Linked DNA regions of Homo sapiens. The protein of the gene in region 1 interacts with the protein of each later gene in a pairwise test. Each region holds a gene or a part of one and is shown in the gene's direction. Other genes may lie near its edges.

The links.
Region 2: the proteins of RAB22A (region 1) and RAB3GAP1 interact in a two-hybrid assay, tested with the Homo sapiens proteins (one study listed by BioGRID).
Region 3: the proteins of RAB22A (region 1) and ALS2CL interact in binary tests that used the Homo sapiens proteins (3 or more experiments, as listed by UniProt).

The regions. Positions count from the first base shown.
Region 1 is NC_000020.11:58,304,404-58,314,278, forward strand, and holds the start of RAB22A (ras-related protein Rab-22A), read left to right. Parts: upstream 1-5,311; 5' UTR 5,312-5,573; coding exon 5,574-5,609; intron 5,610-6,639; coding exon 6,640-6,719; intron 6,720-9,875. UniProt on the Homo sapiens protein: Plays a role in endocytosis and intracellular protein transport. Mediates trafficking of TF from early endosomes to recycling endosomes. Required for NGF-mediated endocytosis of NTRK1, and subsequent neurite outgrowth.
Region 2 is NC_000002.12:135,046,330-135,056,262, forward strand, and holds the start of RAB3GAP1 (rab3 GTPase-activating protein catalytic subunit), read left to right. Parts: upstream 1-5,962; 5' UTR 5,963-5,978; coding exon 5,979-5,996; intron 5,997-6,100; coding exon 6,101-6,156; intron 6,157-9,933. UniProt on the Homo sapiens protein: Catalytic subunit of the Rab3 GTPase-activating (Rab3GAP) complex composed of RAB3GAP1 and RAB3GAP2, which has GTPase-activating protein (GAP) activity towards various Rab3 subfamily members (RAB3A, RAB3B, RAB3C and RAB3D), RAB5A and RAB43, and guanine nucleotide exchange factor (GEF) activity towards RAB18.
Region 3 is NC_000003.12:46,674,981-46,685,027, reverse strand, and holds part of ALS2CL (ALS2 C-terminal-like protein), read left to right. Parts: intron 1-980; coding exon 981-1,039; intron 1,040-1,179; coding exon 1,180-1,246; intron 1,247-1,701; coding exon 1,702-1,898; intron 1,899-2,933; coding exon 2,934-2,999; intron 3,000-3,429; coding exon 3,430-3,528; intron 3,529-3,620; coding exon 3,621-3,782; intron 3,783-4,486; coding exon 4,487-4,598; intron 4,599-5,740; coding exon 5,741-5,818; intron 5,819-6,638; coding exon 6,639-6,769; intron 6,770-8,005; coding exon 8,006-8,179; intron 8,180-8,289; coding exon 8,290-8,386; intron 8,387-8,625; coding exon 8,626-8,783; intron 8,784-9,051; exon of another isoform or gene 9,052-9,341; coding exon 9,342-9,410; exon of another isoform or gene 9,411-10,047. UniProt on the Homo sapiens protein: Acts as a guanine nucleotide exchange factor (GEF) for Rab5 GTPase. Regulates the ALS2-mediated endosome dynamics.

The DNA.
Region 1 (9,875 bases):
TCACAGATAGCTCTTGCAAGCTAAATATTTGAAAAGAAATACACTGCCCCCCAAACACTAACGTATTTTATGAGTCAGTCTTTTGAAGCTAAATGGATCTTACAAGAACTCCGCAGTGACTTCAGAATTGGAATCCAGCCTTCCAACTCTTCCTATAGATGTTTGATCATGTGACACTTTCATCTCACTCCTTTAAACCTTTTACTATGGAAATTTTCAAACATATACAAAAATAGAGACTAGTCCCCAGTAACCAACTTCAACAAGTATCAACATTCTGCCATTTATCTTTCCATCTATCCCTCTCCTGACCTTTTATTTACTGTTTGTTGCAGTATTTGACAGCGGACTTCACACATCAAATGATTTCACCCACGAATGCTTGTTTCTGTTAGATGAGGCCCTTTTCCTTTGAACAAAACCATGACACTATTATCACACCCAACAAAATAATTATTAATATTATCTAATACCCAGTCCAACTCAATTTTCCCTGTCTCAATAATGTATTTTTATAGTTGATTTGTTCAACTAAAGATCCAAATATGACCACATATTGTCTTATGTTGATAGGTCTCTTAGGTCTCTTTACATTTGCAATAGGCTCCCCTCATTTTTTATTCACCAGCTCTCTTTACATTTGCAATAGGCGCCCCTCATTTTTTACTCACCCATCCCTGACACACATTTAAATTCTAATTGGCCAAGCAAACCTTATCAACAATAACACCTCTTCAGCCTCCATATGCTATAAGCAAAACTAGACATTCATAGGCCTGCAGCTGCTTAGGCATAGACATACAGCTCCACCTTCCATGTGTAATTCAACATGGAAACCAATATGTCAGGCCATCCCACACACTTTCCGCTTTCAAGAGAAGAAATTTAGATTGCTTCAGCAAGCCAATTCTCTGAAATGAAATCTCTTCTGTGCTGCAATGGCCTGAAGACTCTGAATGATTTAAAAAATAAGACATCCATTCATTATGGCTCCCTTTTGAAATTAGCCAAACATAATCAAGAATCACAAAGTAAATCAGACAAAAGCCTCATAATTCGTTATCGTTAACATTAACAACATTAATTGAGCACCTAGATAATGCGAGACATTGGATTATAGAAAGGATGGCCTGTGTCCCTACCCCAAGGGACCTACAGTCTAAATAGGCATCGCATCATTTAGACACAAATGCCCCAGGAGGACAACAGTCACAGTACCACCCAAACTGACATCCATCTCCTATCCCCTAGGTTAAGAATATTTATGAGATTGATCCATGTGGTGGAATAAAAAGAAAAGAGCAGACCAGGCGCGGTGGCTCACACCTGTAATCCCAGCACTTTGGGAGGCCGAGGCGGGCAGATCACGAGGTCAGGAGATCGAGACCATCCTGGCCAACATGGTGAAACGCCGTCTCTACTAAAAATACAAAAAATTAGTCAGGCGTGTTGGCGGGCGCCTGTAGTCCCAGCTACTCGGGAGGCTGAGGCAGGAGTATGGCGTGAACCCAGGTGGCGGAGCTTGCAGTGAGCCAAGATCACGCCACTGCACTCCAGCCTGGGCGACAGAGTGAGATTCTGTCTCAAAAAAAGAAGAAAAGAGCAGAAGGAACCGCATTTGACTGTGAATTCCACCATTCATGAGCTGTGCCACAATGGATAAGTTACTCAACCTGATTCTCAGTTTTCTCATCTGTTAAGAGGAATAATCCCACCTACCTCACAGAGTAGCAGCTGTTAACATTGAATCATAAGCTCTTACATAAAAATCCAGCAAAGATGATGATGATGATAAAATCACTGAATACTTTACAAAGCACTAGACTAGAATGTTTTCTGGCTATCCATCTAACCCTCACACCAGTCCTATGAAGCAGCTCCCATTCTCATGCCATTTTCCAAAGAATTGAACAGAATGGATGAGTGGTCCACCCAACGTAACACAGCTACAGGTGTGAGAGAGCCAGGATGTAGAGGATAAAACTTCAGGGTTCTTTCTGCCAATAATGGTATGATAATACCTCCCAATACTACCATGGGGAGGTGTAGGGGTAGAAGCAGGGCGACACGAATGAGCATGCCCTCCCGTACAGATCAATTATGTTATAAACTCCTAAGGTACAGCACTCCACAGCTCCTACCCTTGCCCAAACAGGAAGCCCCCAAGAGGCTGCCAAGGTTGTCCTACCCAAGGTGTGGTTAAGTTCAGAGCCATAACGGTGGTTTCCTTCCTCATTGGGGCAAGTCTTCAGCTGTCTGCTGAAGAGTACTTAAGTCTTTATAATCACAAGTCTCAAACACCTAACATTTGTTCAAATATTTGTCCAAAGTAAGATCATAATTTTTTCCTATATAATTCCTTACTTCCTTTTTTGTACATACATAGGTGAAAAAGGACTGAAGGAGGGGAGCCGTCAGAAAAGAGGTGCAACTACCCTGTGGCCACTATACTGTGAGAAGGCTGACCTAGCCAAGTGGAAAGGGCACCTCGCGGAGAACTGAAGTCCTGGCCAACAGCCAGGACCTATGCCACCCACATAAGTGACATCATTTCGGACTTCCCCAACTGAAACCACATTAAGCAGAAGCACCACCCAGTCTACTCACAGATTTGTGGGAAATCAAATGCTGTTGGTTTAAGCCATTGAGTTTTGGGGTGGTTAGATAACTGAAGCAGCTAGAAAATAGCTTTCCAGTCAGACCAAATACCACATCTATGAATGACAAGCACCATCATGGCAACTAAACATTGTTTATCCGTTGTATCAACGGAAATGATACAACTCCTTCAATCTGAGCATGCCCATCGGCTGAAACATTCAGCTGGGTAAACCTGGATCTATACTGTACCAGGCTCAACAGTGTTAAATAACTACTAATAATGATCACATGAATAACGGTAACAGCAGCCATTATTTACCAACTGTTTATTACATACTAGGCATTGTGCTAAATCCTTTATTCATTTAATCCCTTATAAAAGCCTTTTGAGGTGGGCCACTATAATGCCCATTTTACTGATGAGGTCGCTGAGGCATAGAGTGGTACAGCGACTTGCCTGGGATCACACTGACAGTAAACAGTGATACGGGATTTCACTCTTGGCCATCTGATTCCACAGACACCGGGCTCTTAACTATCAGCTTGCTTTACCCCTTCAAAAGTGTTATGCTACTTTAACAAAACTGCCCCTTGTTGGTTTGTTTTGTTTTGTTTTGTTTTTTTGAGACGGAGTCACTCTGTCGCCCAGGCTGGAGTGCAGTGGCGTTCACTGCAACCTCTGCCTCCCAGGTTCAAGCAATTCTCCTGCCTCAGCCTCCCGGGCAGCTAAGATTAGAGACGCGCGCCACCAAGCCCGGCTAATTTTTGTATTTTTAGTAGAGACAGGGTTTCACCATGTTGGCCAGGCTGGACTCAAGTGATCTGCCCGTCTCTGCCTCCCAAAGTGCGGGGATTACAGGCCTGAGCCACCGCACCCAGCCGAAACTGCGCCTTCTGAGTTAATGTGTGTAAAGAGTTTAAGACTGGGCCGGGCGTGGTGGCTCACGCCAGTAATCCCAACACTTTGGGAGGCCGAGGTGGGCGGATCACGAGGTCAGGAGATCGAGACCATCCTGGCTAACAGAGTGAAACCCCTTCTCTACTAAAAATACAAAAAATTAGCCGGGAGTGGTGGCGGGCGCCTATAGTCCCAGCTACTTGGGAGGCTGAGGCAGGAAAATGGCGTGAACCCAGGAGGTGGAGCTTGCAGTGAGCCGAGATCGTGCCACTGTACTCCAGCCTGGGCTACAGAGCAAGACTACGTCTCAAAAAAAAAAAAAAAAAAAAAAGAGTTTAACGCTGTCTGGTCCATGGTAAGTTTTCAGTAAACACCAACTCTTACTATTAGGAAACCTGAAGATGTGGAATGAAAGATGAGAGGAAGTACTGTATATGACTGGCGTACAGTACGCCCCCAATTAATGTTAGCTATTTGGATGATTTATATAGGGCTTCTTCACCAGCAAGCACTCCGGTGCTCGGTAATTTTCTGTTTACAAGTAGGCTCTCCCCACACCCTGTGAGCTCCCTGCGTGTAGAGCTGTTTTCAACACATCCTTGCAGGTTCGGAGCCCAACACGTGGCCCCCAGAGCAAATAGCTGCTCAGTAAGTTTCTTGACAGGAGAGAAAACGCTTCCTTCCTTCACCAGAAATGCGAACTTGGATTTCTAAGATGACACCTCCCCCAGCTACCAGCCCTTAACATGATTCCAAAAAAGAGGGCAAGAAGGGACAAGGGTCCCACCCAAGAAATGCGGGGGCCAATGGGCTCCATGGGATAAGAGATGGAGCCGGGCTTGTGGCCAGGACACTTGAGAAGTCCGTGCAACTCCGTGACCGGCCACACCGAGAGGGGGACCTCCCAAACCCCCCAGCAGTCCTAAAAAGTCCCTAGGAAAAGGGCAAGGCCCTGAGAGGGAAGTCACCCACCTCCCAGGTGGCGGACCCCCCGCCCGCCCAGGGTCGACTAGGACTTGGGACTACCCCCTCCGCCCATCCCACGGCAGCTGCAGGCGCAGGAAGAAAAGAAGTGACAGGGAGTCCAAAGTTTCCCCAACAACAAAAATCCTTCCCCCGAGGGAAGGGAAGGGCTCCCACCCTCAGCCCGCCCCGCCCAGGGAGGAGGGACCGCCACCAGTGGATCTAGGCAGTTGGGGGTCCCGCTGTTCTGGTCCCGACAAGGAGTGCCTGGCTTGAGGTTCCCCCGCCCCGCGCTTCGTGCACTCTGAATTCTTTGAGAGGGTCCCAGGGAGGGACAGGGGTGCCCCAACTCTTACTTACAGTCGTCTAAGTCATCCTGCAAGTCCACAAAGTACAGGGGGATCTCTGAAAACCAAGAAACACACAAGAAGTTACCAGGGGGCTGCGGCGAGAGGGGACGGGGTCGGGCAGGGGCCCCTCGGCCTCGCGGGGTGGTCACGGGGCGAGAGAGAGAGGGGCACCCCTGGCATCCCCCGAGCCCAGCCCCACTCACCCGCCATCTTGGGATGGGCATGGAGGCGGGACCGGCAGGGGCGGGGCCCTGCAGACAGGGGCGGGGCCCTGCAGACAGGGGCGGGGCCCTGCAGACAGGGGCGGGGCCCTGCAGACAGGGGCGGGGCCCTGCAGACAGGGGCGGGGCCCTGCAGACAGGGGCGGGGCCCTGCAGACAGGGGCGGGGCCCTGCAGACAGGGGCGGGGCCGTCGGCTTCGGGCCCCGCCCCCGATCCGCGCCGGCCGGCCGGCCCCGCCCTCTCAGCGAAGGTGGCTGCCGAGGTGGGCGGGGAGGTCAGGTGACGCGGCCGGCGTCCCAAGATGGCGGCGGCGGCGGCTCCCGGAAGGCCGCGGCGGCGTCCCGGCTGCTAAGGCGGGCCCCACGCGGCTGGCAGCGGACAGGCCGGACCTACGGCCGGAGGACGGGCGGCAGCCGCCTCTGCGCGGACCGGGGCTGGGCCGTGCGGCGGCAGCGGCGCCAGGGGATGCTCTTGCTGGGCCTGGCCTCTCCCTTCTCAACTTAGGGCGGCGGCGGGCCCGCGCCCCTGGCTCCCGGGCCATGGCGCTGAGGGAGCTCAAAGTGTGTCTGCTCGGGGTGAGTGGCGGCGGGTCCGGCCGGGAGGGCCACGGGAGGCTGGGCTGGCGGGGACCCCGGATCCCCCCTGTCCCCTCATCCCTTCCCCCCTCCCACGTCCAAGACGCTGTCTGCCAGCCCCGTGGACCCTCCCTCCAGCTCGGGAGCCGTCCCGCCCACCTCTTGCACTCTCGAAAAGGTCCTGGAGGCCGAAGGGACCCTTCCCCTTCCCCTCCCTGGAGCCCGTGGACTCTTCCCGCCCCACAAAGAGCAAACAGCCCCCCCTTGCCTCTCTATTGCATCTGGGTTAAGAGAGGTTCTTAAATAGTTTTCTCCCAACTTACCAAGGTATTAGTTGGGAGTTGGCCAAGTCTTCCAAAGTAAAACCAATAACAGGTCTTTAGGTTTTACAAGCAGCATTAGCCTACTTTGTCTCTTGGGTGTTTTTGAACTTGTGGGATACCCCTGCCACTTGTCCAAAGAGTTACTTTGCCAAGTAACTCTTCCTGTGGAGAAAAGGGGTGTTCAAATCAGGAAGCCCCAAAGACTAGTTTGAAGCTTCAGCTTCCTGTCTTGTCAGGAAAGACAAGGTGTTGGCCATTTCAAAGCCTTCTTTCTGAAATTGATGCTGTCATTCCAGAGTTTCTGCCTTAAAGATCGGCAGGAACTCCAATAACTAATCTTTATTCCCCCAAATAGGGTGGGGCTAGGATTCATCAGGGATTACTCAGAGGTAACTCAGGAGTTCAAAGTTTACTAACATATGTTAAAAAGCAAGTGGACTTGTTACTTTTTACACGAAGCAGAAACTTTGGGTCTCTCAAAAGGTCCTAATCTGTCTTAACGGCAAAAACCTCTCCCTTTTAGTACAGTTGGAATTTCCTAATTACTCTACTGAATTTTTATGACAACCGCTTTTGTGTTCCTCCGTTTATAAAATTTACACGTCTAGGGTGATTTTTCTAAAATCCTGAACTTATGCCACAAAGTAGTTTTTGGTGTCTGCCAAAAGGTAAACTTTTTCTCAGTCCCTCATCTCGTTCTCTTTCAGGATACAGGTGTAGGTAAATCGAGTATTGTGTGGCGGTTTGTGGAAGACAGTTTTGATCCAAACATCAACCCAACAATAGGGTAAGAGACTTTTATTTGATACACATCTAAAGGTGCATTGAAAATCCTTCCAAATACATAGTGTGTTACAGGTGTAGGCCCTGCGCTTTGTAGTCATTGAATTCTGAGTCGCTGGTTCGCATCATCTCTGGAAGGACTTGAAAGAGTCCAGTGAGGATCTGTGTATTTTAGGAAAATTATCTTCGGACTTGTTGGGGGTGAGAACTTCAAAATGCAAATATGAATTGGAGTTCTACTAATTATTAGAACAGACACAGAAGCTTCGGTCTATAAATATCAACAGCAATTACACCTTGAAATAAGGCAGATGAAAATAGATCCTGGTGCTATTCTTTCAGGCATATCAAGTAAAAGACATTTAAATGGTTTTTGTCCTTCCTGAAAGTAGTAGGTTGAGATCTGAACCCTTACACATTCCTGTACTGGTAGTAATAATAAATTAATAAATTCATATTGAAATGGAAGGTTTTTTCAGTTCTCTGGTTCTATGGATAAGTAAAGTTGATTGTTCATATGTTTTTGACGCTATAAGAAAACTTTTCATTTTGCAATACTAATCCTTTGACTACATAAGAAGTTGTGTTTTATAGGCTTTAATATTATGTTAACCTTATAAAACTAAATAGGTGCTGTGCTCTAGTTTTAATCATCAAACCCTCAAATGGTTTCCAGCATTTAAAGAAAAAATCTATGTTATCCATCATTAGGATAAAATTGGCCTTTGTGCTCCATGCAGATCATTCTTTGACTAATAGAGAAATATTTTACAGCCCAGGAGAGAAACTGCCATAAGATTGTCCCCTGAGAAATTATGAGCTCCTGCTGTCAGAGGTTATTTATGGATTTTTTTGAGACAGAGTTTCGCTCTTTTTGCCCAGGCTGCGGTGCAATGGCGCAATCTTGGCTCACTGCAACCTCTGCCTCCCGGGTTCAAGCGATTCTCCTGCCTCAGCCTCCTGAGTAGCTGGAATTATGGGCGCCCACCACCATGCCCAGCTAATTTTGTATTTTTAGTAGAGACAAGGTCTCACCGTGTTTGCCATGCTGGTCTCGAACTCCTAACCTCAGGTGATCTGCCCACCTCAACCTCTCAAAGTGCTGGGGTTACAGGCATGAGCTGCCACACCTCGCCTATGTGTTCAATATTTTTTGTCTGCTTTTTTTTTTTTTTTTTCACCCAGGCTGGAGTGCAGTGGCACAATCATGGCTCACTGCAGCCTCAATCTCCTGGGCTCAAGTCATCCTTCCACCTCAGGTAGCTGAGATCACAGATGCACACTATCACACCTGGCTAAATTTTGTATTTTTTAGTAGAGATAGAGTTGCACCATGTTACTCCGGCTGGTTTTCTTTTTTTTTTTTTTTTTTTTTTTTTTTTTTTTTTGAGGTGGAGTCTCGCTCTGTTGCCCAGGCTGGAGTGCAGTGGCGCGATCTTGGCTCACTGCAAGCTCCGCCTCCTGGATTCACGCCATTCTCCTGCCTCAGCCTCCCGAGTAGCTGGGACTACAGGCACCCACCACCATGCCTGGCTAATTTTTTTTTGTATTTTTAGTAGAGACGGGGTTTCATGTATTAGCCAGGATGGTCTCTCTCTCCTGACCTCGTGATCCGCCTGCCTTGGCCTCCCAAAGTGCTGAGATTACAGGCGTGAGCCACCGTGCCTGGCCGCCTATCTGCTTTTTTAAACCCTGTGGGTCTCCTACACATTTGAAGGCATGGGGATGAAATTCACCAATAAGTTTCTGCAATTAAAATGCTTTTCCGTGTCCTTTAAGAAAGAGCTGGGTATGACACATGTAAAACATGACCCCATCCTTCTCAGGGCCTGCCTGTCCCTACCTGCATGGGAAAGTGAAGTGTTGGGAAGTGACAGCAAGTACTGCTGGTGATTCAGTGAGTGATACACTTCACACTGAGTCAGAGCTGAAAACCTAAAATCCACAAGACACCCAGACACCACCTTGGCTAGAAGTGCTCTCTCAAATAAGAAGAGAGAAAAGTGAAGGGTGTAGCTTCATGCATCTTGGTGAGGCACGCCCCATCCTGAGTGTCCACTGTTCCCTTTTTGCCAGTAGCTCCCAATCTGCCAGATGCCTGTGGCTCCTGAGCTGCCTCTAGTCCACTCTCTGCACCAGGAGATTTGGCTCACATTTTCACAGGGAAAATAGCATACAAGGCTTTCTCCTCATTTTCTTTCTTCTGCCTTTTTTTGTTTCTTTTTCCTCAGTTTTAGAAGGTGGCTTCCTCCTTTGTGACCAACCCCAAACATGCCCCTGAGCTCTGGAGCCCCACCTCTTCATGAGTTACCCTGTTTCTTCCTCAGCCCTATCATCTTGTCATAGCCTGCACACAGGTTCCGAATCCACCCCACTCCACCACAAGAGCACCCATTCCCCAACCTACTGCTCAGATGGTGGAACTCCTGAAAGAGAAGTTACCACTTCCGCAACTGCTGCTCACTCTTCAGCCCTCCGTCATCTCAGCTCCTCCCTGCCATGCCACTAAAACCACCTTCCCCTGGTACCAGTTTCCATCTAATAGCCAAAGTCAAATGGCCTTTTCTTGGTAGTTTTCTTTATTCATAGAGTGCCTGCTATATGCCAGGTGCTAGACTGGGTGCTGGTGCCTAGACCAGGGGTGGGCAAACTGTGGCCTTTTTGCCCGCCTCCTGCTTTTGTAAATAAAGAGTTACTGAAACAGTCACACCCAATTATTTACTTACTGTCTTGCTGCTTTGGGGCTACAATGACCAACTTGAATAGTTGCAACTAAGCCTTGATGGGCCACAAACCCAAAAATATTTGCTATCTGGTACTTTTCAGAGCAAGTTTGCTGACCCCGATCTAGACAAAATGGACTTCTGTCCTCGTAGACCTTACCTACAAGAAGCTACATTATGACTAGTGTACAGGAAATGATTTATTCTTTTTCTTTTTTTTTTTTTGAGACTGAGTCTCTCTCTATTACCCAGGCTGGATTGTAATGACACGATCTCGGCTCACTGCAACCTCTGCCTCCCATGTTGAAGCGATTCTCCTGCCTCAGCCTCCCATATAGTTGGGACTATAGGCGCACATTTGGGAATCTGCCCGCCACAATGCCAAGCTAATTTTTGTATTTTGAGTAGAGACAGGGTTTCACCATGTTGGCCAGGCT
Region 2 (9,933 bases), on another chromosome or scaffold:
TACAGTGGCACAATCTCGGTTCACTGCAACCTCCGCCTCCTAGGTTCAAACAATTCTCCTGCCTCAGCCTCCCAAGTAGCTGGGATTACAGGCACCTGCCACCTTGCCGGCTAATTTTTGTATTTTAGTAGAGACAGGGTTTCACCATGTTGGGCAGGCTGGTCTCGAACTCCTGACCTCAGGTCATCCACCCTCCTTGGCCTCCCAAAGTGCTAGGATTACGGGCATGAGCCACCATGCCCGCCCCATTTAGAACTGTTTTGGTCAATGATTTTTGAGGAATAGTGTTTCATTCCACAGAGGTTTTTAGTTTAGCATCTATTAAAACCCAGTCTTTTTTATTTTTAATTGCATGCATGGTTTATCTATTTGTAAAACCAAAACCTTTTGTTATAGTGTACATTTGATTTAGAACCTTATGCAATAAAGATTTAAAGCAACAGAAATCTCATTTCATGTTGAGAAAGCATGGTTAAGAACATATGTATACAATATTGATTGGTTACAAGAAGATTCATACCATGTAAAGTTTACACATATTTGGGTGATTAAACTAAAAGATTACCCCTAGGTATAATTCAATGAAGGCAAGTGTTTTTCATACACTTTTCTTGTCATTAGTAATTTAGCCTATGGTCTAGAGGTGCCTGCATAAGTATTGGAGGAAATCGTCACAATATTTGAAAAGTAAAAAATAGTTTATTACAACTCCAAGGATATTATTATTTGAGATTAGGACACAGTTTCTTCTATCAGTTTACCAGGCATTCCTCCTCTGGGACATCCTTTGGGGAGTAAAAAAGTTGCAACATACAGTTTATCTAAAATGAGATGAAAAGCAGAGATTCGGCTTACCTGTGCTGTGTTTTGCTGAGGGACGTGGCACACAGTTGAAGAAACACCAAGCCAAACAGTAGCCAACATCATCCTAATTCATTGTGGCACTGATTTCTGGGACAGCTGTAACCCACACTTCAACCAGGGATCCATTTAAAAACAGCATAGATTCAGATTTTTTTTTCAGTGTTGTACAGCCCAAATAATTTTTCCTTTTAAATTTTGTCTTTAATTAAGCTGGTCCTGCATGCACAAACCCTTTAGTTAGCTGCAAATAGACTGCTTAGTTTACAGGTTGTCTCCTAGGCAACCATCCACTGTGCATTTAGCTTAGAGAATTGAAAGCAGGACAGTCTCATCCAGGAAGGAAAACAAGTTTTGTATGCTCTTCCAAGTTGTTGCTTAAGTGCTTTAAAACTACCAAACCCCTATGTACTTCCATGGTTGGCACAATTACTGTGATCACCTGATGCACTGAGACTTTCTCTAAGAGATCCATGCCTTTGTAATCCCCACAAGGTGCCAGAAGGGCCCCTTTCAAAGCTGCATATAGGTCACAGAGTGAGAATCCAATCGATTACCACCAAACTGATTGCATTCTTAGACTCAGCCTTGAGAAAGCGCTAGCAGACAGAAATCCTTACATTACAACATACTTCTTCTCTAGATATGCTTGTGATATTCTGAAGCAAAAGCTTCAGTAAACAGACTGCATTTTTGTCTGAGTCCAGTGGTAATAAACCCAACTGCAAAAGACTTCAAATCATGGACTATGAAAACATAATCATGAGGAAGTGGACACAGGGCACTCCATAAGGTCACCCGGCATTTGTGTGCTGCTAAATTCTTTTCTGCCACTTACCAAAGGATGCAGGGGTTTCTCTTCTAAGGTAGGGCGTAACATTATATATTCTCAACTGAATGGGGTACGATATTCTATCGCAATAACAACAGCTGACATTTATTGACTAGTTCCTACGTTAGTCCATAAAGGACATGATTAATGTCATTTAACCCTCATAACAACTCTATGGAGTTGAAACAATAAACAGCATCATTGCCACGTTACAGAAGATGACACTGAGGCTTAGAACTTTTGAGCTAATGAATGGTGGAGCTAGGGATTGAACCTAAGCGGCCTGGCCACAATGTTGCAATACTACCTTTACCATGCGCAAGCACGTACACACACACACACACACACACACTCTCTCTCTCTCTCTCTCTCTCTCTCTCCTTTAGTGGATGAAGACTTCAGGGTAAAAACCATTCAGAGATTGTTAGATCTACGTAAACTCCCTCATTACCAATTCAACTTCAAGCTGCTTGACACCAATTTAAGCACACACAGGCTATTACTCTGTTTTGCTTCCTATGCTCTACTTTGCTTCTACTCCCATCAAGGTGAGTACTCTCTCAGCCTAACAGAGGAAGGTGCAAGTACCGTAGTTTCTGACTTTTAGGATTTCTGCCAGGTTATCCTAGGGTTCCAGCTTGTCTGCAATCCATGAATCTTTAAATTGGCTTCTCAAAAAGTAATCCTGGCCAGATGTGGTGGCTCACACCTGTAATCCTAGCACTCTGGGAGGTTGAGGTGGGTGGATCACCTTAGGTCAGGAGTTCCAGACCAGCCTGGCCAACATGGTGAAACCCCATCTCTACCAAAAATAAAAAAATTAGGCCAGGCGTGGTGGCTCACACCTGTAATCCCAGCACTTTGGGAGGCTGAGGTGGGTGGATCACGAGGTCAGGAGTTCGAGACCATCTTGGCTAACACGGTGAAACCCCGTCTCTACTGAAAATACAAAAAAAATAACCGGGTGTGGTGGCAGGCGCCTGTAGTCCCAGCTACTCGGGAGGCTGAGTCAGGATAATGGCGTGAACCTGGGAGGCGGAGCTTGCAGTGAGCCGAGATCGCACCACTGCACTCCAGCCTGGGCGACTGAGCAAGACTCCATCTCAAAAAAAAAAATTAGCCGGGTGTGGTGGCTAGTGCCTGTAATCCCAGCTACTCGGGAGGCTGAGGCAGAATTGCTTTGAACCCAGGAGGCGGAGGTTACAGTGAGTCGGGATTGTGCCACTGCACTCCAGCCTGGGTGACAGAGTGAGCAAGACTCCGTTCCCACCCCCCCCAAAAAATGTAATCTTCTGGCTATGCGCAGTGGCTCACGCCTGTAATCCCAGCACTTTGGGAGGCCAAGGTAGGAGGATTGCTTGAGCTTAGTTGTTTGAGACCAGCCTGAGCAACATAGTGAGACCATGTCTCTGCAAAAAATAGAAAAAATTGCTGGACGTGGTGGTGGGCACCTGTAGTTTCAGCTACTCAGGAGTCTGAGGCAGGAGGATTGGTTGAGTCCAAGAGTTTGAGGCTGCAGTGAGCTATGATCATGCCACTTCACTCCAGCCTGGGAAACAGAAAGACATCCTGTCTTTAAACAAAAAAGGAATCCTCCTTTTGTCTCTCATTTTGAGATAGAGTCATTCAAACCATTCTCTTTTTCAAGAAACTCAATGTTTAGAAATAGTGGAGGGATAGGCATACAAAACAAGGACAATATCAGGCTGCCCTAGGGCTGTGTCAAAAGCTCTAAGGAAGCATGGAAGGGGAGTGTCTGACTTCCTGGGTTGAGGGTGGGGGATGTATGTTTGCCTAGGGCTGCTTGAACAAAATGCCACAGACTGGAAGGCTTAAACAACAAAAATTTATTTGCTCACAGGGCTGGGCGCCGTGGTTCACACCTGTAATCCCAGCACTCTGGGAGGCCGAGGAGGGTTGATCACCTGAGGTCAGGAGTTTGAGACCAGTCTGGCCAATAAGGTGAAATGCTGTCTCTACTAAAAATACAAAAATTAGCTGGATGTGGTGGCACATGCCTGTAATCCCAGCTACTCAGAAGGCTGAGGCTGGAAAATTGCTTGAATCTGGCAGGTGAACGTTGCAGTGAGCCAAGATCTCACCACTGCATTCCAGCCTGGGTGACAGAGCAAGACTCCATCTCAAAAAAATATTTTTTTATTTGCTCACAGCTCTGAAGACTAGAAGCCCACGACCAAGGTATCAGCAGGTTGGGTTTCTCCTGAGGCCTCTCTCCTTGGTTTGCAGGTGGCCACCTACTCTCTGTGTCCCCACATGGCCTTTCCTCTGTGTGTGCACATCCCTGGTGTCCTAATCTCTTCTCATAAGGACACTAGTCAGATTGGATTAGGGCCCACTCTAGCGGCCTAATTTTAACTTAATCACCTCTTTAAACACCCTGTCCATAAATACAGTCACATTTTGAGGTACTAGGAGTTAGGGCTTCAACATATGAATTTTGAGTGAGAATCCAATCGATTACCACCAAACTGGTTGCAAATACAAATAAGCTCCTAACAGGGGGCAGAGAAAGTCTTCACAGAAGAGCAAATATCCAAGCTGAAACTTGAAGGACAAATTTTACCAGGTAAACTATAGACACAAGGACATTGCAGATTCTAAACGACAGCATGTCCAGAGGAAAGAGAAAGCACAGGATGTCGAAAACATTGTAGGTGCATGTTAAAAGAGGCTGTCTATTAAAAGAGAGTGGCAGACACAAAAGATGTGCTGCTCAGACCTCCCTTAAAGAAAGACTCACTGCCCAGCTGTAAGGCGTGTGGTTAGATGAACAGCCTACGGCTGTTGGGTTTATCAGGTTTGTCTAACTGTTGAGCCAAGGACCTGCTATTCTTGGAGTGCTTCCTCCAGCCAAAAACTGAGCAAACAGTGATAGCCAAGGCCACTGTTTTCTTGGGGAGATCCTGGCCAATGATTGACGGAGCAAGGCAGTAGTACAAGGGGCTACGCATTTCCTGATGCATAATTTTTGCCCTAGCACTTCCAGTTGGACTTCAGAGACTTCGCCAGCTTGGAATTGTAGTGTCTGCTTTTTTAGAGCACCAGTCTGAAAAAAAAATAGTGAAAAAGCAAGCTGCAGAGTGGGAGAAGGTATTTGCTACATATATAAACAATATAAAGCTCAGATGCAGAATATATATAAATAACTTGAAGGTGTTAAAATAAAGACAAGGCCAGGCACAGTGGCTCACACCTGTAATCCCAGCACTTTGGGAGGCCGAGGGGGGCGGATCACAAGGTCAGGAGATCGGGACCATCCTGGCCAACATGGTGAAACCCCATCTCTACCAAAAATACAAAAATTAGCTGGGTGTTGTGGCGCATGCCTGTAATCCCAGCTACTCGGGAGGCTGAGGCATGAGAATCACTTGAACCCAGGAGGCAGAGATTGCAGTGAGCCGAAATCGCGCCACTGCACTCCAGCCTGGCGACAGAACCGAGGTGGGCAGATCATGAGGTCAGGAGATCGAGACCATCCTGGCTAACACGATGAAACCTCATCTCTACTAAAAATACAAAAAATTAGCCGGGCGTGGTGGCGAGCGCCTGTGGTCCCGGCTACTCGGGAGGCTGAGGCAGGAGAATGGCGTGAACCCGGGAGGCGGAGCTTGCAGTGAGCCAAGATCGTGCCACTGCACTCCAGCCTGGGCGACAGAGCAAGACTCCGTCTCAAAAAAAAAAAAAAAAAAAAAAAAAAAAAAAAAAAAATGAAGCGTTTGTTGAACACCATGTTGCTCTTCCCAGAAACCAGGTAACTAGTATGATTTTATTTCAGGACAATCAACTGAGCAACTTCTTGCAGGGTCAGGGGCAGAGGGTAGAAGTGGTATTACAGCACCTAGTTTATTGCCTTACAATCAATAAATAGAGGGTGAATGAAAAGAAACCCAATAGTTAAAGTGTAAGCTAATTGGTACTAACTACAAATATGGGTTGAATGAAAACAAACCCAACATGCTTTAGGTTTTTTAATACAATCTTATCCACATGAGTTTAGGGTCTTGTCCTATCACCTTGGCTTCTGTTCCCTTTCTGTATTCATCACAGGAAATTTTCAAGTTTTATGAAACCAGCTAGAGCGGAGTTTTATTAACCAGCTGAGGGCGGACTAAAGACTTAACAGACCTGGGCGAAGAAGCAGCACTCCTACTTACTAGGGCAAGACTCATGAACAGGGGGCGGGGGCTCCGGGGGCGGGGACGCGCCCCGTTCTCTTTCGCTCTTCTTCCCGGCAGCCTTAGCGCCAGGCCCGGCGCTCCTCAAGATGGCTGCCGACAGTGAGGTGATTTCTTTGCTCCCTACTTAATCCTTGTCACTATCTAAATTCGTTCCTCATGTCTTCGCCTTGGGGCTTAATTTCTTTTTCTCTCCTTCCCCTTCCCGCAGCCCGAATCCGAGGTATTTGAGATCACGGACTTCACCACTGCCTCGGAATGGGAAAGGTGAGTGAATCGCATTTTTGGTTACCAGCTCCCATGGGCCCTGGCGTCCCCTAGCCGCTTCCCTGACCCCAGACACACCACAAGTGACGCCACTTGTGCGGGAACGGTAATACCGTGGGTCCCGGGTCTCCTCCCCCAGTCTTCTTTGGTCAACCGCAAGCCTCTTCCGCGTCTCGCGTCTGGCAACACCCGGCCCGCCCCCGTCAGCCAATCCCTGAGGCTCAGGCTCTCAGAAAGTTTTGTTTTCTCTCCTGTCAGACCGCTTCCCTTAGACTTTGGTTTTCTGGTTGTTACCCACTCGCAAGAAAAATTTCCGAGGCTGCAACAACCGTTCCGGTTTTCATTACCGTTTAACTCATTATCGTAAGCAGTAAACTTGGTAGGTTGTGCCGCACCTCATCCCGTGTACGTTGGTATACCCTTTTCAGGAGGAAGTCTTTCTTCAGAGTATTGGTAGTTGTCCATCTGTCACACTCCCACCATCTCCATGCTGTCTTTAATTTTTTATTTTTATTTATTTTTGGAGACAGAGTCTCAGTCTGTCCGCCCAGGCCGGAGTGCAGTGGCGAGGTCATAGCTTACTGCGGCCTCGAACTCCTAGGCTCAAGTGAAGCTCCCGCTTTAGCCTCGGGAGGAGCTGGGACCACAGGCACGCGCTATTACGCCCAACTAATTTTTTAAAGATCTCGCTGTGTTGCCCAGGCTAGTCTTGAACTCCTGGGCTCAAGCCTGGGCCGCCCAAAGTGCTGAGATTACAGGCGTGAGCCTCCGCCCATCCTGTCTTTTAGAATAACCTTTTTAAAAAGTCTGCATATGGTTTTGGAATGCTTTGATTTAAGTTGTTACATTAAAGTGGGTACTGTGCCCAGGCTTCCTGTGCCTGTCAAATTCAGATGAACAGCTGTCTGGGTGAAACTGTTCTATTACTGAAATTAGTTGAAAGCCAAGTTTGTGGAGGAGTGATAGCTTAGATCGAGAAGGTTTCTGTTAAGTGTCACAGAAACCCTTCAGTTTCCTGGGTGTTGAAGTCAGTGTTTACGCTGTTACAGCATTTTATAATCTTTCTGGTTGGGAGAGGAAATTTGTGGATGTCGTGTCATTAGGTGGCACAGGAAAATATAAAAGGTCCTTGTTGGAATAATAGTTAGACCTGTGGTACCCTTCATAAAAGTGTCAGTAAGACATAACCACACTGGCAAGACTTCATTGAGTAGGTACTGGGTGTCCAGAGCTATATACAAAGGGAAAAGCAGAAACTTGACCCATATATTTTTAAAAAACAACAAACAGCAAATAGTTAAAATGTAAGCCAGTTGGTACTACCTGTAAAAATAATAATTAAAATAATTATTATTTAAATAGGGGTGATATTGTGGACTACAATAGTTGGAGATATTTTCATAGAAAAGATAGGAAATGAGCTGGGCCTTGAAAGTGGGAAGTGGTTGGTTAAACATGAGAATGGACTGACATGGGTAGAGACATAGGTGAGAATGAATCTTTGAAGGGACTGAATGAAGAAATATATCTTCACTAGAGTGAAGACTGTCTATTGAAGGGAAATAAATAAGGTTAACAAGGAAGACGGGATTGGGTTATGGACATCTTCCCAAACTAAATACAGGAATCCAGATTCAGTATTCCTATGACCAGTGATTCTCATACTTTAATGTACATCAGAGTCTTAGATTGCTGGGCCCCATCCTCAGAGTTTCTGATTCTGTAGGTCTGAGGTGGGACTGAAAATTTTGCTTGTGTAACACGGTCTCAGGTAATTCAGATGCTGCTGGTCAGGAGACCACACTTAGAAAGAACCACTGCTTAAGACAATAGTGAGAGACCCTTCGTTTTAGAGTGGCCAGGTGATATGATGAAAGTGGTTTTAGGACATGATGTAGAATAATGGTGGGAGACTTAACTTGATTCATAATTAGGATGGTGATTTGTGGACTGGAATACAAAGGGAACCTAGAAGGGAGGATTGTAACATATTTCAGAGAAGATTTAGGTAATAAACTTGATGATACGTTAAAAGTGGGAAAAATCAAATGTGAACTGTAGTTTTTTGCCTGTAAGAATGAATGTAAGGAAGTGTCAAAGTGAGAAGATTTGAACCTGTTGATTTTGAAATAATTTGATGTCTTGAAGGTAGTTAGAAAAATGTAATTCAAATCTTGGAGGGTGGGGTAGGGAAACATCAGTTTTGAATGGAAAAATGATCACTTTCCCCTAGTTAAAAATATCCTGAAGTGGAATATTAAGTCCTTTAGCTTTGCATATGGAAATAATTATTAACACCGTTATAAGAACTATTGCAAAGTAGAAAATTTGGTTTTTGGCTTTTACACTGTAGTGTGCATTTTACAATTCATGAGAGAAAATGTTAAGACTTTGAAGTCTCAAACCTTGAGTTTAATTTTAAATGAAAGATCTTGTGAGTACAATATGTTATGAACTATATAGATAATTTATTGAGAGAACTGTATAGAAGCCCATAACTCTTTTTATCATTTGTTCATTGACAATATTTATTGAATCCCCATATGTCAAGCACAGTGCACATTACGGATTTAGGGATGTGGTGGTTAGTAAAACAGGTACGGTTTCTGCTTTTACTAAATGTGCAGTCTAGTGCATTACAGACACAAATCAAGTAATACAAGTCTGTAATTATGAGTTTATGTAAGAGCTAGAAAGGGAAAGAAACCTGGTCTTATAAGAGCCTATAACAGAGGGACCTAATATAGAATAAGGAATCAGGAAATGACCCTTCATTTCCTGAGAGCTTTTAAGGAAAAAATTACTTAGTTTTTCTAGTCAAATCTCAATACTTGTAGGATAAAGTCCAAGTCTCTTAGCTAGTACTGATAGAATTCATTATTCATACAATAAGTATTTTAAGACATTCCTGGCCGGGCATGGTGGCTCATGCCTGTAATCCCAGCACTTAGAGAGGCTGAGGCAGGCAGATCACTTGAGCTCAGGAGTTCAAGAGGAGCTGGGGCAGCATGGCGAAACCTTGTCTCTACTAAAAATACAAAAGCTAGCTGGGCATGGTGATGTGCACCTGTAGTCCCAGCTAGTCAGGAGGCTGAGATGGGAGGATTGCTTGAGTCCTGGAGGACAGAACTGCAGTGAGCTGTGATTACACCACTGCATTCCAGCCTGGGTGACAGAGTTGAGACCCTGTCTCAAAAAAAAAAAAAAAAAGACATTTCTTCTTTTACTGTAAAAACTATATTTTAAATAGTTTTCACTATAATAGTAATACCTTATAGTAGAATAAAAAATAAAAATCACCTGTAAACTTAACACCAGGAAATAACTGCTGTTAATTTTTTGACATATTTCCTTTTTTTTTCTTTTTTTGAGACGGAGTCTCGCTCTGTCGCCCAGGCTGGAGTGCAGTGGCGCGATCTCGGCTCACTGCAAGCTCTGCCTCCCAGGTTTACGCCATTCTCCTGCCTCAGCCTCCCAAGTAGCTGGGACTACAGGTGCCCGCCACCACGCCCGGCTAATTTTTTGTATTTTTAGTAGTGGCGGGGTTTCACTGTGTTAGCCAGGATGGTCTCGATCTCCTGACCTCATGATCCGCCCGCCTCGGCCTCCCAAAGTGCTGGGATTACAGGCATGAGCCACCACGCCCGGCCGACATATTTCCTTCTAACGTGTGTTAAAAACTTTTTTGGATCAAATATTAATATTTCTTTTTCTTTTTCTTTTCTTTTTTATTTTGAGACAGAGTCTCACTCTGTTGCCCAGGCTGGGGTGCAGTGG
Region 3 (10,047 bases), on another chromosome or scaffold:
AGGCTGGGAATTGTTACATGGCCAGTCACCAACTGTGGTTCATCCATCCTGAAATCATGTTGTCCTGGTGAGGTCCACAGCACAGTCTTCTCTACCCCTTAGAAGGTTGGCCTGGAACCCCCTTGCAGACAGGTGGCCGGGGCCTGGCAGGAAGCTGCTGCCCAGCCTAGACCTGTGTCCCCTGAAGCCTGATTTTGGGATTGGTTCTGATTTAGTTTGAATTCCCCTCCACTCCCAACTTCACACTCCACTCCAGGTACACTGATGAGCTACTGTCCCTTCCCTGTGCTAGCCCTCTCCTGACGCTGGACCTTTGCACATGCTGTTGTGTCTGGTGGGCCATCTCTTGTCCCTGGCCTGCGGCTGGCAAGCTCCTCCTCACCCCTCAGGCCTGGGCCTCCCACGTCCTCCCCATTCTGGTATGGAGCAGTGATTGGCCTGACTGGGCCGGGTAGGAAGTTGCTACACAAAATCTTCCCATAGGAAGGGGCTTTTTTTCTGGCTGTCAGAGCAGGATGGCATTCCAGGTAGAAGGAACAGTATGAGCAAAAGTTCACAGTGAGGAGAGGTTGGGGCAAGCTCATGAAGGTGTGATTGTGGAGTGGCCCTGATGGCGTAGTGGTCTGTGAGGTCTTAAATGTTAGGCTCAGCAGTGTCTCAACCCCCAGGCAGTAGGAGCCATAGAGAGGTTTCCAGCAGGGGTTGACCAGGTCCCAGCTTCATTTGTAGACCACTCTGGTAGCCACAGGGGGCTAGAGGCTGGTTCTGAGTTCCTGGCCAAGCTCTGGGGTAGAAAGGACATGGAGGAGCTGTCCCTGAGGTGGGGAGCAAGCCAGAGGGGAGAGGGACTCAGTCCTGGACATGCTGGGCAGAATAGCCTTGGTGGCCACACAAGGTTGAGCTTGGGGCAAGCCTTGGCCAGAGGGTAGGTGAGCATCTGGCCTGGGCTCTGGATGACTCCTGTGTCCATCCTCTTCCAGGGCCACAATGTCCACACCTTTGATCTGAAGCTGGTGTGGGTGGATCCTGGGCAGGACGGGTGAGCAACCCCCTCGGCTGACACCCCAGGCCTTCTTCCCTTTACCCCCATGACACCTGCCCACACCCTGGGACTCTGGCTTGGGCCCCTCCACCCTCCTGGACAAAGCTGGGGCCTACTCATCACCTCCGTCTGTCTAGGTGCACGTTTCACCTCCTCACGCCCGAAGAAGAGTTCTCCTTTTGTGCCAAGGACTCCCAGGGCCAGGTGAGTGTGGGTGAGCTGTGAACTGCGGGAGCGGGGTCAGAGGACAGGGTAGGAAGAGGGCAGAAGTATGCAACCCTGCAGGGCCCCACAGGAGTGCCGGCGAGTGTCTGGCAGGCTTCTGGGGACCTGGTCAGAGTAAATCGGGGTCAAGAATTAGAATGTCAAAAAGAACAGGGTATTTTTCTTTCTAAAGACAGAATTGGGTCCTGTGTTGATCCCTGCCCTGAGGTCTTGTTTGGCCCCTCTGGGCAGGCCCTGAAACTGCAGAGGAGGATCTCAGGTTGGGTGGAGGGCCCAGAGAGTAGCAAGAAGCAGTTGAAGGGTCCCCAAGGTGACAAAATGGAGTAGGAGGTGGAGGGTGGAGGGGGTGGTACCTGGAGCTACCCCAGAAGGCTTCCTGGAGGGAAAGCCTCCAGCAGCAGTGATCCCCTTCCCCATGTTCCCCCTCCCACCAGGCAGTCTGGCAGTGGAAGGTGACCTGGGCTGTTCACCAGGCCCTGCATGGGAAGAAGGACTTCCCCGTGCTGGGGGCTGGCCTGGAGCCCTCCCAGCCTCCCGACTGCCGCTGCGCAGAATATACCTTCCAGGCAGAGGGCCGGCTCTGCCAGGCCACCTACGAGGGCGAGTGGTGCAGGGGCCGGCCCCACGGCAAGTGAGTGGCTGGAGCTCTGGGTGGCAAGGTGGGACTCCCTGGGGGTCTGCGGGGCAGAGAGCAGCACACAAGCCTAATTGTCTCAGGACATGTTCCAGGAGCGGTTACTCTCTGTGGACAGTCAATTCTCAGAGTCCCTCTTAAGTCCTCTTGGACTGGGCCTGGCCCAGAGACAGTCTGTGCCAAATAAAGTCTTGATGGTGACGCTAGAGGACAAGGGGCAGCAACCACGCGCTGGCCTTACAGCCTGCAGGTGCCATTCCATTCTTAGGAGGGTGGGAGAATAATTCTCACATCTGTACCTCATTGTCTGGCAGTGTTGAAATGGCTTGCACACATTCTATCTCCATCGGTCCTCATGAAGACGCTCTGTATGGAGTGCTTTTACCCATTTCATAGGTACAAACACTGAGGCCTAGTGATGGGCATAACCTGCCCAAGGTCTCAGGGCAAGTGATAGGGTGAGCCGGCCTCAATCACAGGTCTGTGTGACCCCACAGACAGGCAAGCCTTTATAGACCATGTGGCCCCACCCCATGCCACAGCTGGGAAAACAGACCCAGAGAGCAGAAGGGACTCACAAGGCTACACTCTCAAGCACCTCCGCTAGTTTCTGATACCCTGCCTCCTTTCAGAAAGGGCTCGAGAAGACTTATGAACAAAAGGACAGAAAAAACACAGAAGTGGGGAGGAGGGTGGTAGAAACCCCACAGACCAGCATTAAACTTGAGCTTGATTCTTAGCTCTGAGCTTCCTGTTGGTCAAGGGAAAAAAGGGAACCTAGATGTCTCCAGGGCTTTCCTTATGGGATGTGGTGAGTGTGCCCCATGAGGCTGCTGGTACAGTTGGGCCAGGAGTAGAAAAGGGCTAAAGGGGCTTTCTGCAAGGAATGTTCGGAGCTCAGACAAGAGGGCTGGGTGGGTGCAGGGAGCCCAGTCCAAGGGAAGAGGAAGGGAGGGCGTCTGAGAAAGTAGGTGGCTGAGGTTGCTGAGGGGTGGGTAGGCCTGAGGCTCGTGAACCTCCACTGTGTTCCAGGGGAACCCTGAAATGGCCGGATGGGCGGAATCACGTGGGGAATTTCTGCCAGGGCCTGGAGCATGGGTAAGGCTGGCTGGGGCTACTGCTGGGAGGCGTGCAGTGGGCTGAAGGGTGCTTTCCTCCCCTGCTGTGGTCACCAGCCCGGCCCCATCCTGAATTCCCAAACCTCAAGCAGGAACTTAGAGACAATCCGGTCCAGCCCCCGCCCACTGTACCAAAGGGGAACCGGGGGCCTGAATAGGGGGCCCGTCTCAGCTCGAGGTCACAGAGGGAGTGGTACAGGCCAAAAGGTGCTCCAAGGTGCTCGGGACCAGGCTGGAGGGAGGGGTCCTGAGAGGGGCCCTTTGAAGGATAGGAAGGCTGAGGGCCTCTGAGAGTCTCCCTGTTGTCTGGAAGGCTCCTTGGGGGCAGGGATACTCCTGGGTGGCATGGAGTAGGTGTAATGGGCGTCTCAGGTCAGGGCTGATCCCCACCCCCACAACCATGCTGTCAGCTTCGGCATCCGCCTGCTGCCCCAGGCCTCTGAGGACAAGTTCGACTGTTACAAGTGTCACTGGCGAGAAGGCAGCATGTGTGGCTACGGCATCTGTGAGTAAGTGACCCTGGCTGGGGGGTTCATGGGCTGGGCCCATCCTCTGGGCTGAGCTCCATGAGGCAGAGCTCGTTGTTGATGGCCCTCCCCAGGTACAGCACCGACGAGGTGTACAAGGGCTACTTCCAGGAGGGCCTGCGGCACGGATTTGGGGTCCTTGAGAGTGGTCCGCAGGCCCCCCAGCCCTTCAGGTACACGGGCCACTGGGAGAGGGGCCAGAGGAGCGGCTATGGCATTGAGGAGGATGGTGACAGGTGAGCGCCCTGCAGCCACCACTCCCAGGACGGAGGGGTGGACCGGGCCCTCACAGACCAGATTGTTGCAGGACACAGGCTCCTGTTTGTCCCCCACTGTGTCTCTCTTAAGCCCCTCACTTCCCCTCCAGTCCCTCGGTTGCTGCGGAGGCTCAGGCTGAGCGAATCTTGGTCACGCTGACTGCAGGGTCGCCCCCGCCCCTCACCCCTCCTCATGGTGTTGGAGAGGCATTTCTGACCCCCTGCTCTGTCACGTCTAAAAACTGCAGCCCTTGCTGGCTCTCTGGGCTGTGTGATAAAGCCCTGGATCCTTGGCCTGGCAATCACAGCCTCGCCTGCTTCTCTGACCTCACCCCAGCTGCGTCTCCTGGGCACCCCTCCAGCCTTTCTGGACCACTGAAGTCCCCACGTATCCATCACATGCTCCTACCTCCATGGCTTTGCACACACTCCTATTCCCCCTGTCCTTCCTGCCACCTCCACGGAGAAGCCTCCCAGATGCCCTTCCCAGGCTGCCTCCCTCCCTCCTCCATTCTCTATTCCTCTTGGGGGTCCTGACCTCTCTGGCACTGTGTCTGTTGAGTGGATTCAGGTGATGTCACTGCCCCTTATCTGCACTCCCTGCCGCCCCGTGCCAGCAGAGTGCCCAGGAGGTACATGGGAATGAGTCTGATCCAACTCTGGCCACATTCCTCTCCTTCCAGAGGTGAGCGCTACATTGGCATGTGGCAGGCTGGTCAGCGCCACGGCCCAGGGGTCATGGTCACCCAGGCAGGTGTCTGCTACCAGGGCACCTTCCAGGCGGACAAGACGGTGGTGAGTGGAGTGTATCCTGGGCTATCCCTCTCTTTGCACCCCACTCCCGCTGGGGGCACTGAGGCTGAGCTGAGGCCTTTCAGGGAGGGATGGGAAAGGGGGCTGTGTTCCTGGGTGCTGGAGGGAGCCAGAACCTGGGCAGGAAGCCAGCTCTACCACCCACCTCCCCTGGCCCTGGCCAATCCCTGCTCTGCCTGACCTTGGTTTCCCCATCAGCAACTCAGGTTAAGAATACTTACCATAGACTCAATGAACTAACAAGAATGGAGCACTTGCTCATGATGATGCATTAGCTGACATTCACAGAGTCCTAACTTGACACCTGGCTCTGGGCTAAGCTCCCACCCTGATCTTGTGGGATCTTCCCAAGAGCCCTGCAGGTTGATGTCATTATTATCCCTAGTGTGTCCCTAGTGAATGACAAATGAGAGGTTCAGAGGGATCAGAGGACCTGCTCCATGTCACCTTCACTGAGTGGCAGAGCTGACACTCACACCCTGGTCTGCTGAGCCTGGCCGCCGAGCCTGGGACTCCCATGTTTGCCTCACCCATACCCTTCCAGGTGCCTGGGGAATGTGGGGCTCTGGCCTGATGGCTGTTCCTGTTATTATGGTCTGTTGGTTTGTTTATGCTCTACTTCATTCTCGAAAGGATTGAAGGAGGCCTTCAAGGAAAGAGGAAGACAAGGGGAAGAATAAGTACACAAAATAGATTTGGAAATAAGCCGAACACTAATTGTAACCCTTTCGGCTCTGAGCTTCCCGGCAGCCCATGGGGCAAGGGAGCCTGGTCAGCTCTGCCGTTCCCAGGGCCAGTGACAAGCAGGGAAGCAGGGATGTTTCAGAGAAAGCCCCACATTTCTTGAGCTCCCAAGGGCTTCCTGAAGAAGCCGCTGGGGTGAGGAGCCAGGGCGGAGGGTGTCATTTGGGGAAATCCAGGGATGGGGTCCTCGGGGCTGGTGCTTAGCAGGCCAAAGGCTAGAGTCCCAATTAGGTACAGTCCTGTGGGGCGTGATGAGGCTCAGGGCCCCTCTCGCCATGTGTCAGGGCACATCTCCCTTCTTTGGCCATCTCTCTCCACCCTGAGTTTCCTGGCCCTTCCTCACCCACCCTTTCTACCCTCCCTGGCTTCCTCTCCCCAAGGGCCCGGGCATCCTCCTCTCTGAAGACGACTCCCTGTATGAGGGCACCTTCACCAGGGACCTGACCCTCATGGGGAAGGTGAGGACCACTGAGGCCCCCCTCCACACCCTGCCAAGGCCTTGGTTGGTGTCTGTAATCTCCCCACTTAGACTCAGGGCTGGGGGCAGGTAGGGGAGGGCCTGTCCCACCTCCCTTGGAGCCAAGGAGTGGGCACAGCAACTCCACCCTGCCACAGAGTTGCGATTGATTCTGGAGTGAGGTGAGAGGGGACCAGTGGCCTTGCCTGCTATCCAGAGGGTACCGGTGGTCTCCTGGCTGTGTCCCTCCATACCCTCCTAGTTCAGAATACACGCCCTCCACCAGTACCAGTGCCTCGAGCAGCTGTCCCTGGAGGCACTGGCCTTCAGTGTGTGCCTCCCTGAGCTAACCCAGGAAAAGGCAATGTGTCCCCGCTGGAGCCTTTGGAAATGTAGGGGCTGTTTTGGTTTCATAATGACTGGAGCAAAGGGGTGGAGATCAGGTTGCTATGAATGGGACAGCCTCATGTGGCAAGACACCGCCCTCCTCAGGCGTTGCCTGTCCCTGGGCTTACCCCCACCCCAGCCCCTCAGTGGTGGTCTCCCCACTCTTGCCTGTGAGTCCCTTCTGCATCTCTCTCCTCTTCCTACCTCAGAGGTGAGCGAGCCCCTGAGACGTGGGCACAGCTGTTGGTGGGGGGCTCTGGCAGGCATAGAGGATTATGAACCCCTCAGCATGGAGCAGCTTGAATGGATGGCGGGAAGCCCATTCATTAGTCCTTAGCCTCTCTGACACTGATGGACAGGCTTGTGGCCTGTCATGATTGGCTGGAAGGGTAACTGGGCAGACAGACATCCCTGCTCCTTCTCCTGGCTCCCAGGGCAAGGTCACCTTCCCCAATGGCTTCACCCTGGAGGGCTCGTTCGGCAGTGGGGCAGGGAGAGGACTGCACACACAGGGTGTGCTGGACACGGCTGCCCTCCCACCAGACCCGAGCAGTACCTGCAAGAGGTGAGTGCCTGGCCCCTCTGGCTCTGGGCCTATCTGGGGATGTGTCTGTGTTTCCATCCCAAAGACTCAGGTCTCCTCAGAGGGGCCTTTTTGCACCCACCTCTTAGCCCTCTAGAGAGTTCCGAGAGCCCAGGGTGTACAACTCCAGTCAGAGACTCTTGGGATCAGGGGCTGTGTGGATATAATGCGGTACACCACAAAACTGGAGAGAAATATTATTTGTAGGCTTTGCTTAGGTCCTGCTTTTTTTTTTTTTTTGTCTCGAAAGGATACAATACGGTTTACAAACCAAACATACAGGAAAAAAAAAATAGAAAATAAGAGCATATGTTAACCTTAAAAGAAAGGGATATGTAGACATGTCCTACGGCATTTACAACTGATCATTGAGCCTGGCTCTGAGTTTCCTGGCAGCCAAGGTAAAGAAGGAAACTTGCTAAGTGGAATCACAGTCATTATCAAGGAGTATTCCAGAGAAGGATAGACTTCTTTTCCTGTAGGAACAGAGTTCCTCCTTGGAAAACAGTTGCTCTTGTTGCGTCTGTTGAGGAAGACTCAGTATTGCACAGAGGAAGGAATCTGTGTGGGTGGCAGTTCTAATGGGAAGTGGTCCCAGGCAGCATTTCAGATGTAGGGAGGGAGTACAGTTGACTACTTGGCCCGCTGTCCCTGCATGCTGCTTCTCCCTGACAGCAGGAGCTGGGAGTGGACAGCAATCCCTAGGGGCAGGCCCCAGCCTGGGTGTGAGTGTGGGCTGCGTGTAGCCTACGAGCATGACACTGGAGTGCAGGGCTCCATTAGACATGCGCAGCCAGGCCCCAGCCTGTTGGCCAGGGCGGGATCAACCACAGGAAGGAACCAGCTGTAAGGGAGGGCAGAGGGGGATGTCTTGGAGGGGAATCCCAGACTTTGGACACTGGTCTCTCTTGGACCAAGACCCCCTCTCTGGCTTGGCCTCCAGATCTGCCCACCTTTCTGTCTCCGTCTTTCCAGGATTCCATATGCTTCTGTCTGTCTTCTCGTCGCAGGGTAGATTCTCTGTCCCTTTCTCTGCTGCTCTTCCTCCTGGAGCCGTGGAGGTCAGCCCCCTCTGCATGGTTCAATCCATCCACCCTTCTTGGGGCTTGATCCTGGGCCAGGCTCATACCCCCACCCCTCCAAGGGCCTGGGCAGAGTCCTGCCTACCTCAGCTCCATCTCTCTCTGCCCCATCACCCACCCTCCATCCCCATCGCAGGCAGCTGGGCGTGGGTGCCTTCCCCGTGGAAAGCCGCTGGCAGGGAGTCTACAGCCCCTTCCGGGACTTTGTGTGTGCTGGCTGCCCCAGGGACCTGCAGGAGGCCCTGCTGGGCTTCGACGTGCAGAGCTCCAGGGAGCTGCGTAGGTCTCAGGATTACCTGTCCTGCGAGAGGTGAGGCCGGCTGTGTGAGCATGCACAGGTTAGGGTGGGCTGGGGAGGGCTTCCTGGGGGGAGGGGGCTGGGCCGAGGTGTGGGTGAGGGATGCTGTGTGTGGTGCCCAGGACCCACCCTGAGGACAGTGTGGGCAGTATGGAAGACATCCTGGAGGAGCTGCTGCAGCACCGGGAGCCCAAGGCCCTGCAGCTGTACCTCAGGAAGGTGAGAGCCCTGCTGGGGTGGCCAAGGGGGTGACATTGTCACTGTCCCTGGTGGGGAAGGGCTCCCATTTTTCATAGCAGGGTGCTGACTGAAGGGGACAGGCCTGTGGATCCCTTGTCCTCAGAGGACCTCAGTGTTCTCGTGTATGAGATGGGAGAAGTGTTGGGAGGCTGGTGTGGGCATGCTGTGCTCCAGACCCCAGTGCTTAGTCTCTCTCTGTTGCCTATGCACTGGCCCAGGCTCTGAGCAACTCACTGCACCCCCTGGGAAAGCTGCTCCGGACACTGATGCTGACCTTCCAGGCTACCTACGCAGGTGTCGGGGCCAACAAGCACCTGCAGGAGCTGGCCCAGGAGGAGGTGAAGCAGCATGCCCAGGAACTCTGGGCTGCCTACAGGTGGGCTCGGTGGCAAACGGGACAGCTACTGCCCTGTGACACTAGTGTGCCCTTTCCAGGCATCAGTTCTGCCTTGCATTTGGGAGGAATGCCAAGTGTCTGATTCAACAATGAACCAGAGGCTTGGTCAGTGTGCAGCTGCTGAGCAAAAGGGTTAGAGGGTGGGGAGGTGAGAGCAAAGGCCCAGCTGCAGCCCTCAGCTAGAGTCCAAGACCCAACCAGGCGCTGGGCTGACTCTGACCGCAGGTGCACTCTCACCCCACTGTAGGCTGAGCTTGGCCCTGGACTCGGAACACACCTGCAGTCCCAGGCTGGGCTGTGACCCCATGAAACACTGCAAATAGAAGCCTTAGATGCTATAGTTCCTTCTGCTGCTGGATTCTCAGGCTAACATCCTGGAGCTCCAACCTTCTAACTTCTGTGGTTTGAGAGGATGAACCCTGCAGGCCATGTCCACAGTTCTGAGAGGCCACCTGCTTTTGCCTTTGTTGACTGGTGGTAGAACTCCAGTTCTGTGGCAAGGGGCAGCCACACCATTTCTCTCTCATTGACTCACAGGGGTCTGCTGCGAGTTGCCTTAGAGCGCAAGGGCCAGGCCCTGGAGGAGGATGAAGACACAGAGACAAGGTGACTGGCGCAGGTCTCCTTGGGGCCTGCCGTGTCCAGGGAGGCCTCATGCGTCTGCTCCTAGGACCTCCCTTGGGGAAAGAGGTGCTTCTGGGGAAGTGCTGGGCATTCACTCTATTGACCAAACATTGTGCATTGATCGTTTGTGGATTAGAATGACCCATGACCTCTGTTCTGTGAGGAACCAGGGAGGGGGCACTGCTACAATGCATTGAATGCATCTTTGTTCTAAATGTATGATCCCAATCTCATCTTTCGCATGCAGAAGGTGAGTAGCTCCCCGAGGCACCCTCCTCTCCCTGCACACAGATGGGGAAACCGAGGGCTGGTAGGGATGAGCCTGAGGTTATACAGGAGTTAGGTGGGCATGAAATTTGTTTCCCCCAGTCCCTGGAGCAAACCTTACAATTTGCCTTTAGATTCTAGACCTGAAAGTGTTCCTGATCAGAGAGGCCTTCCTGTCACTGCCTTGCAGGAGGCAAGGGAAATGGGGTTAGACATTAGGGAGGATTCCCCGCCCGGAGTCCTAGCACAGCAAACCAGGAGGTGGAACTGAATCAGCCTGGAATGGCTGCTGAGAGCTCAGCTGCAAGTTGCTGGTCCATCTGGGGCCCTGGTTTTGCTTTCAGTCAAATGG